3 linked regions of the Homo sapiens genome follow. The protein of the gene in region 1 purifies or fractionates together with the protein of each later gene. This does not show direct contact. Each region holds a gene or a part of one and is shown in the gene's direction. Other genes may lie near its edges.

The links.
Region 2: the proteins of PTPRA (region 1) and LGALS8 purify together in Homo sapiens (affinity purification with mass spectrometry; 3 studies listed by BioGRID and IntAct, with this or other methods). This does not show direct contact.
Region 3: the proteins of PTPRA (region 1) and CSE1L purify together in Homo sapiens (affinity purification with mass spectrometry, with the first as the bait; 2 studies listed by BioGRID). This does not show direct contact.

What each region holds. Positions count from the first base shown.
Region 1 is NC_000020.11:2,876,380-2,880,032, forward strand, and holds part of PTPRA (receptor-type tyrosine-protein phosphatase alpha isoform 1 precursor), read left to right. Parts: intron 1-3,653. UniProt on the Homo sapiens protein: Tyrosine protein phosphatase which is involved in integrin-mediated focal adhesion formation.
Region 2 is NC_000001.11:236,540,939-236,544,591, forward strand, and holds part of LGALS8 (galectin-8), read left to right. Parts: intron 1-715; coding exon 716-772; intron 773-1,822; coding exon 1,823-1,849; intron 1,850-1,976; coding exon of another isoform or gene 1,977-2,102; intron 2,103-2,621; coding exon 2,622-2,710; intron 2,711-3,653.
Region 3 is NC_000020.11:49,084,260-49,087,912, forward strand, and holds part of CSE1L (exportin-2), read left to right. Parts: intron 1-1,023; coding exon 1,024-1,127; intron 1,128-3,653. UniProt on the Homo sapiens protein: Export receptor for importin-alpha. Mediates importin-alpha re-export from the nucleus to the cytoplasm after import substrates (cargos) have been released into the nucleoplasm.

The sequences.
Region 1 (3,653 bases):
GGCCTTCCATAGACACTGTTGCTTTATAAATATGTGCCTGCTTATCCATACTCCTCCCACCATGGGACGTACCACTCACACCTTACTGGGTTTTTTTACTTAACATATTTAGGAAATCATTCTATTATCAACATATATAGAGAGTTATTTGTTCTTTCTGTTGACATGCTTTTACTTATTTAGTTGTATGGCTGTACTGTAACATCTTTGGGTTAAATATTTGTTTCCAGGTTCTTCTCTTACAGCAATGAATGTCCTTGTACATACTGTGTTATGTGCTCATTTGCAAAGTTATCTGAACAATATGCTTTTAGAAGTAGAATTACTGGGTCAAGGGATATGTCTGCATTTTTGATTTGCAGACATGGAGCCAAACTGCCACCCGTTTCTGGGGGGTTGTACCAATTTATCCTCTCCCCCAAAGTGTATAGCTGGATAGATGATCTTTGGAGAATTCAGGAGGATCAACTACGATGCTTTTTCAGCTATTATATGCCTACTTTTCCTCCACAAATCCTCCCCCACCCTATGCGATTCTAGCCAGTTTCTTTGAATTTACAGAGGGAGATGTTGAGGCTCAGAAGGATAAAAGTAACTTGTGCAGGATGATCAGTGCGGGTGGTGGTGGGTGTTTTGTTTTGTATTTTTGCACCCCTCATGTTTGTATTTGCCAGCACCTTTCATTGGAGGTGCTCAGTGTCAGTTTGTAAACATTATTGCATTATTTTTCTCCATTTTCACATGGAAAAAAATGAGATGCAGGGGAAGTTTGAGTTATGAGAGGGAAACTGGCCAAATATAGAATCTTGTCATTTTACTTCCAGTGCAATAATAAATGTTTCCAAATGACAAAGCTGAAGAGATGTTTTTTGTTTGTTTGTTTGTTTGTTTGTTTTTTGAGATGGAGTTTTGCTCTTGTTGCCCAGGCTGGAATGCAATGGCGCTATCTTGGCTCACGCAACTTTTGCCTCCTGGGTTCAAGCGATTCTCCTGCCTCAGCCTCCCGAGTAGCTGGGATTACAGGCATGTGTCACTGTACCTGGCTAATTTTGTATTTTTAGTAAAGACGGGGTTTCTCCATGTTGGTAAGGCTGGTCTTGAACTCCTGACCTCAGGTGATCCGCTGGTCTTGGCCTCCCAAAGTCCTGGGATTACAAGCATGAGCCACCGTGCCCGGTGAAGAAATGGTTTTTTAGTGAGTCTGAGTACAACAAAAATAGCAATAATATAACACTAACTTAATAAAACTGAACAGCAGGCCCAAAAATAGCCCAACATTAAAATTTATTTTAATGTATTCTCTATGGAAAAGAGAATCCATTAAATGTAAAACTATTTATTTTACTCTAAATTCACATCCATTTGTGTCAGTGTACAAGACATAATTTTTATAGTAGCAGTCAGTACATATAGAATATGATTTTTGAATTCTTCAATAGCATAAAATATTTTATATTTACTCATTTAAGTATTTGTTCATTTAAAATCACAGGCTGGGTGCGGTGGCTCACGCCTGTAATCCCAGCACTTTGGGAGGCTGAGGCAGGTGGATCATGAGGTCAAGAGATCAAGACCATCCTGGCCAACATGGTGAAACCCCATCTCTACTAAAAATACAAAAATTAGCTGGGTGTGGTGGCGCGTGCCTGTAATCCCAGCTACTCGGGAGGCTGAGGCATGAGAATCACTTGAACCCAGGAGGCGGAAGTTGCAGTGAGCCAAGATCTTGCCACTGTACTCCAGCCTGGCGACAGAGCGAGACTCCGTCTCAAAAAAAAGAAAAAAAAAATCACAGTATAGTATTCCATGCATCGACAGCTGTAGTTTTTTTTAAATTTGTTTTTGTTTTTTTGAGACAGGGTCTCACTCTGCCACCCTGGCTGGAGTGCAGTGGCATGATCACAGCTCACTGCAGCCTTGACCTCCTGGGCTAAATGATCTTCCCATCTCAGCCACCTGAATAGCTGGGACTGCACAGGTCTGTGCCACCACGACCAGCTAATTTTTTTATTTTTTGTAGAGACATTTTTATGTTGCCCAGGCTAGTCTTGAACTCCTGGACTCAAGTGATCCACCCGCCTTGGCCTCCCAAAGTGCTGGGATTACAGGTGTGAGCCACCACTCTCAGCCAACAGCTGTAGTTGGTGCAATCCTTTTTATTCTTTTATTTTTTTCTACCTTTTTGCTATTATAAATGGTACTTTTATACCCCTTGTTCAAATACTTCTTTTGGATTATTTCCTTGGACTCTTACTCCCAACCTGGGCTCACCAAGTCAGAGGATACAGTTTCGGTGCCTAATTGCAATCTGGAAAGGTTGAACTAGTTTCCAGCACTATCAGCAATTTATGGGGCCATTTCTTGACAACCCATCTAGTGCTATTACAAAGAAATGTAATGATACCTTGAATTAGGTTTAATTTACATTGCTTTGGAAAAAGAGACCAGTAGCTGATTTAGATTTTTTGAAAGAAGTACAGTGCTGTGATATAGATTATCTCCAAGATTTATGTAACTGAAGCCAACTTGTGGTTGAAGAAAGATTTGGTTGATGAGATTGAAATATTGTGGAAGTTTAGAATAGGATCATAGCAGTATAAAATATAAGGCTAGATGCTGTTCAGTTGGAAATACCAGGCATTGTGCCGGAAGCTGGGGACACCCCAGAGTAACATAGATGTGATGTCTGTCCTCATGACACTTTTAGGTTAGTGCAGTAGACAGACATTAAAATCACCTATGGTAATTATAGATGTGATGAAAGGGGAAGAATAGGGTGTCGGGAGTGTCAGAGAAGTTCAGCAGCTAAACAACATTTGCAGTTAAACATTTGTGAAGGCCCTGAGCTGAGAAGGGATTTGGTAGCTCAGGGCAGCGCTTCGCTAACTTGAATGTGCTCATGAACCATCTGGGAATCTTGTTAAAATGCCAAGTCCTGAATCAGTAGGTTTGGGGTGGGACTTGGGATTCTGTGTTACTAACCAGCTCCTGGGTGAGGCAGATGCTGCTGGTGGGTGGATCACACTTGGTGTAGCAAGGCCTAATTGAGAGCTTGGTGAGCACCTAAAACTGGCTGACCATGGTGAGCAGGAAGGGGCAGGTGGCTTGCAGTGACAGAGTAATTCTCTGCCTAGGCTGCACTTTAGATTCACCTGGGGAACTTAGAAAAATCAGGGTTGCAAATGCCCCACCCGCAGCCATTTTAATTTAATTGGTCTCAGTTGGGGCCTGAGAATGTGTATACAGTCATGCACAGTATAACGATGTTTCCATCAAGGAGAGACTGCATATGCCACAGTGGTCCCATAAGATTATAATCCATAATTTTACTATACCTTTTCTATTTTTAGATATGTTTAAATACACAAATACTCACTGTGTTAGTTACTTACAGTATTCAGTACAGTAACATGCTGTACAGGTTTGTAGCCTAGGAGCAGTAGGCTATACAATATAGCCTAGATACGTAGCAAGCTGTACCATCTCATTTTGTGTAAGTACCTTTTATGATGTTTGCAGAATTATGAAATCACATCAGGACTCATCCTCAGAATGTGTTCCATTGTTAAGTGATGCATACCTGTATATATATTTTAACTCCCCAGGTGATTCTAATGTGTAGCCAGGCTTGAGAACTAGAGACTAAGGACAGT
Region 2 (3,653 bases), on another chromosome or scaffold:
CTTTGCATGGGCATAAAATGGAGTATTTCTGTAAGACAGGTTCCTAGGCTGGGAGTGCCTGAGTCAAAGAGCACAGTCATGTGTTGCATAAGGACAGTTCAGTCAAAGATGAACCACATATACAACCGTGGTCCCATAAGATTGTCATATACTGTATTTTTACCATACCTTTTCTATGTTTAGGTAAGTTTATATGCACAAATACTTACCATCCTGCTCTGGTTGCCTACAGTATTTGGTACAGTGCCTGCTGTACAGATTCACTGGCCAGGAGCTATAGGCCACACCCTACAGCCTAGGTGTGTAGTTGGCAGTACCATCTAAGGTTGTTAAGTAATATTCTGTGATGTTTGCACGATGACAAAAGTCATGTAAGGACACATTTCTCAGAACATACCCCCTTCGTTAAGCAACACATGACTGTCTTTGCATTGAAAATTTTGATAGATACTAACTCGCCCTTCACAAGGGTAAAAACAGTTTGCACTCTCAACAGCCATGCTCCCACCTTCTTGCTGACATTACATCTTATTCTCTGTAATGTTTGCCAATCTGATGGGGGGCGGAAAGGACCACAGTGTCAAGTGTATTTTTGGATCATAGTTTTCAAGCATATTTTTAGTACCATTTATAATTTTTTTATATGTCAATATAAAATATTTAGAAAATATTTTCTACTGGATGTTACAAATTAATCTTTATTATCTTTTCTCAGGACTTACAAAGTACCCAAGCATCTAGTCTGGAACTGACAGAGATAAGTAGAGAAAATGTAAATATTAAATCTTTTAATGAGCCACTGGTTTAAAAATGTTGTTTTAGCTGCCATGTTAATGAAATGGCAAGAAGGCTGGGTTTTTGAAAATTATGCTTTTAGAACGCAAGTAATCACTTGAAAATTGAGATACATACTTGTGGTGCCAGGCACGCAGTAAGTTTTTGCTGATGATTCACCTGTCAGTTTCTGTAACTGCCACTCACTGTTCTTATGTAAAAAGCACTCTCTCACTCTTAACTGCTGAATAGTACTGTTCTGGGGTATTTCCAAATATTGAACATCAGCCAGTGCACTGGCAAATGAACTTCCATGTGTATCTTCAACCCCTGGGAGAATAACTGCAATTTAAAAATGCGCTGTTATTAATGGAGAAAGTGAGGTCTTACCGACTGGCACGTTCACACCTCACAGACAGAACAGAATCTTAGCATTCTGGGGGCACCCTGGAAAGGACAACTAAGACACGTTTGAAGTTCATGTAGTGCTGGGTGAAGGTGGTGGCTCAGGCCTGTAGTCCCAGCGCTTTGGCTGAGGTGGGGGGATTGCTTGAGCCTAGGAGTTTGAGATCAGCCTGGGCCACATAGGGAGAACCCCATCTCTACAAAAAATTAAAAAATTATCTGGGCATGGTGGCGCATGGCTGTGATCCCAGCTTTGGGTGGCTGAAGTAGGCGGATGACTTGAGCCCAGGAGGTTGAGGCTGCAGTGAGCCATGATTGAGCCACTGCATCCCAGTGTGGATGACAGAGTAAGACCCTGTCTCTTAAAAAAATTTCATATAGTTCTATGAAAAATTATTAATTTATGGTGGAGGATAAAGGACTCAGATGAACAGGGATATCAGACTCTCTTCTCAACCCGTGTAGCCCTTCACAACACCATACCATTCCGTCATAAAGCACCAGCTGCCTGGAGGTCACACCAGAGTGGAGCAGGAACATCCCAGGCTCCGGCCAGGCTCAGCTCAGCACAACCAAGACTTCAGATTATAAACTATAATTCTTCCCCTTCTAACATTGTTGTGTTTTGTTTCTTTTCCAATAGGTTCCAAAGTCTGGCACGCCCCAGCTTGTGAGTATTTTTGCCTGGGTTATTTCATGTGGAATATTTTATAAAGTTGCATAGAAAATGAACAGTTTAAACCGTGGAGGGCAGCTTCATTCATTCCATTCCTTACTGTAGAACTGTTTCCCTACAGCCTAGTAATAGAGGAGGAGACATTTCTAAAATCGCACCCAGAACTGTCTACACCAAGAGCAAAGATTCGACTGTCAATCACACTTTGACTTGCACCAAAATACCACCTATGAACTATGTGTCAAAGGTTTGAAGAGCACCAAATTTTCTTAACTCTATATAAAAATTAAGTTGTAATGAGCTGTTACGAGTAACCTGTATCCACAATAGAGGCCCAAAGCAGCCCCCTCTGCATTTGTGTGCCGTCCCTGGACGGATTCGAGAGTCAACCAGGCCTGCCTCTGAGCCATTCCTGTGTATTTCCTCAGCACCTCCCTGCTTGGCTGCTTCCCCTTCAGGCAGAACACAGTACTGCCTCAGACCCCAGGCACAGGGGGCCTTCCTGGCGTGTTTCACTCATACAGAGGGCATCGGGTCCCACCCTGTCACTCATTTCATCGTCTAAAATGTAATCATGTGTGTTTGCTTCGAGCCAGGGACAGTGCTGCTGCAGGGGACCCAGCTGGGACCAAGGCAGACTGTCTCTCCCCTCCTGGGATTTACAGGGTCATGGCTCTGAAACATTCCGTAGTGTTCTTTGGACACGAGTTTTCCCTGGAGATCGCTTTCTGCAGGCCTCTTGGTCCTGACTGTGGCTTCTTTTCAGAGGCTGCCATTCGCTGCAAGGTTGAACACCCCCATGGGCCCTGGACGAACTGTCGTCGTTAAAGGAGAAGTGAATGCAAATGCCAAAAGGTCAGTATCCTTCGGTACCAGTCACAGTGCAGATACTTCCGTGCCTGTTACCGCCTTCCACCCGTGAACGGTCCTGTGAGCTGGAAGAAGGGCTAGCGTCAGAATCTTCATTTCCAAAGTGAGATGATTCAAGCAGGAGGTGGTTAGATTGTGAACAGCCAGTGGGCAGCAGAGCCGACTAAGGCCGTGTTCTGACCTCGGCTTTTTCTGGCCAGACAAGAGAGTAGCATTTTTGTCCACGAGGCCTATCCTTGCCTTGTAGAACTCCAGAGCAGCCCCGTAAGATCAGGCAACATCTTTTCTTTTTTTTTTTTGAGATGGAGCCTCACTGTGTCACCCAGGCTGGAGTGCAGTGTCACAATCCCAGCACACCACAACCTCCGCTTCCTGGGTGTTCAAGCCATTCTCCTACCTCAGCCTCTGGAGTAGCTGGGATTACAGGCGCACCACCACGCCCAGCTACTTTTTGAATTTTTGTATTTTTAGTAGAGACAGGGGTTCACCATGTTGGCCAGGCTGGTCTGGAACTCCTGACCTCAAGTGATCCGCCCACTTCGCCCTCCCAGTGCTGGGATTACAGGTGTGAGTCACCACGCCCAGCCCAGGCAACATTTTTTAGGGCCCCTCTTGTCATGTGATTTAGAAAATTTCTGCTTTAACAACTTTTTCCACAGACGTCCAGCCTTCTGAAAGCTTGAAATTAGAGCTATTTCCTAGAAAGTGGCATACTTTCAAGAAGGAAGGAACACGGGTAGATGATGAAAAGAGAATACCTGCTTGAGAGGATCCCAGGCTCCTGCAGCCTGAAGTAGTCATTCAGTTTAGCGTTAAACCTTCCATTTCTGTCCAACCACATCTCAGCCTCAACGCTGATTTTAAAGGGTTTTTTTTTTCGTATTTTTATTTTGCAAGTAACGAATTAGTGGAATGCTGACTGGGTTTA
Region 3 (3,653 bases), about 46 Mb from region 1:
ACAAATGTCTGCTTTCTATTCCTTTATACTCTGTTTCATTCTAAAAGCATTTGAGGCTGCTTACTAAAATAGGTGCATTATGACAATACAATTTAATAAACTGGAGCCAAGGAAAGTAACTGAGATAAAGTTAATAAACAGAAATGTGTGTCAAAGGATCCTATATAGTAGTCCAAGAAACTCCAAATTTTATTTGGAGTCTCTTAGCAGCCAGGGCAAAGAGGGAAACTTGGGAAGTTAAAATTTTCACAGGGTCTATGAGATAAAAGTTAAAGCAGAGAATACTGTACAATAGTAGTAGTAGTGTTCTCAGCAACAATCATGTAACAGTTATTTTCATGTGGCTATTTGCGTAAGGTCACTTATTTCTGAGATATGACCTAACCGAATGAAAGTAATTCACTGGGGACCAAGAAAATAGGTCTTCTGGCCTGAACCAGGATGAAATGTAGAGGAATGGATGGTCTGCATGTCTTTCAGGCCACTATTCAACAGTATTATTTCTTGAAATGAGCTTTGGGTAAGAGATGGAAAACAGTTCTAGGTTCTTTCCTTCATCAAGAACTTGAAGTACAGATACTCTCAGTGGCCAATTAAGGGTAGAAAGGACATCCTTTGAGGTGAGTCAAGCCAGTACCTATCTTCAGGCCCAGAATTTATGCAGAAAACAGTTCTGAATCTTGGCTCCACCTCCAAAAACAAAATAAATGACAGAGTCCCCTGAGATTCTGAGTTCTTTCTCAGTGGTAATAGATATAAACCAGGGACAACTGTTTCAACTTCAGATGTTGTTGGGTTTAGCTGGCTTTTTGGTTCAGTTGTGTTTGGTTCTCGATGTGCCTTCTTAGGAGCCTAACATGAGCACATGTAAAAAAATTATTTTCCTAAACTGTCTATCAATTGTCAGTGGTGGGAGATGGCTCAGTTTTATGCTGAGAAGGGTGACATAGTGGTTGCCAAGGGTAATCTGCAGTGACAAGCTCAAGAGTTGGTAGTGACTGAAAGCTGTTTTTTCATCTATAGCTTTACAGCTGCAGAAATCGCACCGTTTGTTGAGATTCTGCTAACAAACCTTTTCAAAGCTCTCACACTTCCTGGCTCTTCAGAAAATGAATATATTATGAAAGGTAGGCTGTTTCCCTGGTGTGCAGACTACAGGTATCCAATCTCAGATTGTAAGGGTGAGCACTCTGAGTTATACTTCAGGTTATACAGTCTATGAACCAGATAATGTTTACCAAGTAGTAAGTTAGTTTAGATATTTCAAAATGAAAAACATTATCTTGTTTACTACTAACAATAATTTTTTTTTTTTTTTTTTTTTTTTTTTGAGATGGAGCCTTGCTCTGTTGCCCAGGCTGAAGTGCAGTGGCTTGATCTCAGCTCACTGCCACCTCTCCCTCCTGGGTTCAAGCGATTCTCCTGCCTCAGCCTCCCGAGTAACTGGGATTACAGGTGCACTCCACCATGCCCGGTTAATTTTTGTATTTTTAGTAGAGACAGGGTTTTGCCATATTGGCCAGGCTGGTCTCAAACTCCTGACCTCAAATATCTGCCCGCCTCAGCCTCCCAAAGTGCTGGGATTAGAGGCCACTGCACCTGGCCAACAGTAATCTTAATTTGATATGGAACTTCTCATTACAGAAAATGTAGCAAAGCCCTTTTTTCCTTCCCTAGATTGAGTTTCTTTAAGGCAAAGAAGAGATCATGCAACGTTTATTAACTGCATGCTCACCTAGGTAGGGGTGAAATGTGGGTGCCTGTGGTAGACTCTGCACAAATCGTGTCTTCTTACGTACTGCCAAGGACACAGGCAGCTGTATCCATCCACAGGCTGGTGTATCCATCCACCAGGCACTACATTAGTTGAGTGTCCTGGTGCCAGCTCTGAATTTAGAGATAGTCTCAGTGTTTTTCACTGTTGCATCCCAAAAGCCTAGCACATTGGGTTGTAGGAAGCACTTTTCAGAGAAACTCCCTGATCTTTTCAGTCTGGATCAGAAATCCTAGAGTGGATGTGTGTATCTGGGTGTATGTTTCCAACACTATCCTTCCCCCAACAATGATGTATAATTGTGTAATTATTGTTGTTTAATGTCCTTTTTTTTTTTTTTTTTTTTTTTGAGATGGAGTTTCACTCTTGTTGCCCAGGCTGGAGTGCAATGGCACAATCTCAGCTCACTGCAGCCTCACTCTCCTGGGTTCAAGCGATTCGCCTGCCTCAGCCTCCCGAGTAGCTAGGATTACAGGCGTGTGCTACCATGCCCAGCTAATTTTGTATTTTTAGTAGAGACAGGGTTTCTGCATGTTGGTCAGGCTGGTCTTGAACTCCCGACCTCAGGTGATCCACCCGCCTCAGCCTCCCAAAGTGCTGGGATTACAGGTGTGAGCCACTGCGCCCAGCCTTAATGTCCATTTCTATGAGAGCGGCTAACTAGTCTGTAATCTTCATTACTGTGTTTTTAGGGTATGTAAGAATACACAGTATGTAATACCTTCTCTGTACGGTTGTATGAGTGAATGAAATAATTCTGCGCCAGCCTAGTGGAGGAGCACCAATTTATCCTCTAGCCCTTTTAACCCAGGTCAGGGAAGGATTTTCTCTAGGAAGTGATCTCTAAGCTGAGATATGACCTAACCGAACGTTAGGTGTGAGGGATAGGTAGCAATCTGTTGAAGGGTGGATGAGTCTTTGACTCCAGTAGAGGAGGAAACATGATGTGCAGAGTTCAGGAGGCAAGAGCAGATAGCTTTCTGTCCTTTATGCTTGGCATGTATTTGGGGCTCTGCTTAGTAAACATTTATTTTAGAAATGTTATTTGTGGAAAGAGAGCTTTTATACATTTTTAGCTGACAAATTTATTTTTCTCCCATGCTTCCTATTTTTAACCCATTTATGGTCTTTTGAGCAATATTTTTGCAATTTGGACTCTGTGGCTTTACATGTATTTTTAGAATTTTTTTAGGCTCCTAATCTCTTTTTTTGAGGGAGGTGGATAGGCAGTTTTCTCTTCAGTTTCCTGTAGTTTGTGATCATGTTTCCTTTAGGCTAGGGCTAAACATTTTCTGATGCTGGTTTCTTTTTCTTTTTCTTTTTTTTTTTTTTTTTTGAGAGAGAGAGGGAGTCTCGCTCTGTCTCCCAGGCTGGAGTGCAGTGGCATGATCTTGGCTCACTGCAACCTCCACTTCCCAGGTTCAAGCGATTCTCAAGCCTCAGCCTCCCGAGTAGCTGGGACTACAGACGTGCACCACATACCTGGCTAATTTTGCTATTTTTAATGGAGATGGGTTTTGCCATGTTAGCCAGGTTGGTCTCAGACTCTAGCCTCAAGTGATCCGCCAGCCTCGGCCTCCCAAAGTGCTGGGGTTACAGGTGTGAGCCACCAAGCATGGCCTCTGCTACTGATTTCTAAGAGAAAGAGACCCCAAACAGTTCTCTCTCAGACTCACCTGCTCCATTCATGTCAGCTCACTGTTTCTTCCTCTTAGTCAACCTCTTTAATTATTTTTTAAACCTTGAGCCTTCTAGAAATACTCAGTATTTCCCAGCTAAATTTTGTTGCCAACCCGTCCTAATTTTAAAAGGAAGGGAAATTTAGATTATTTTTAAATGTAGAGAGCTATCTCGGGGTTGTCTAAGCATCTTAAAATTT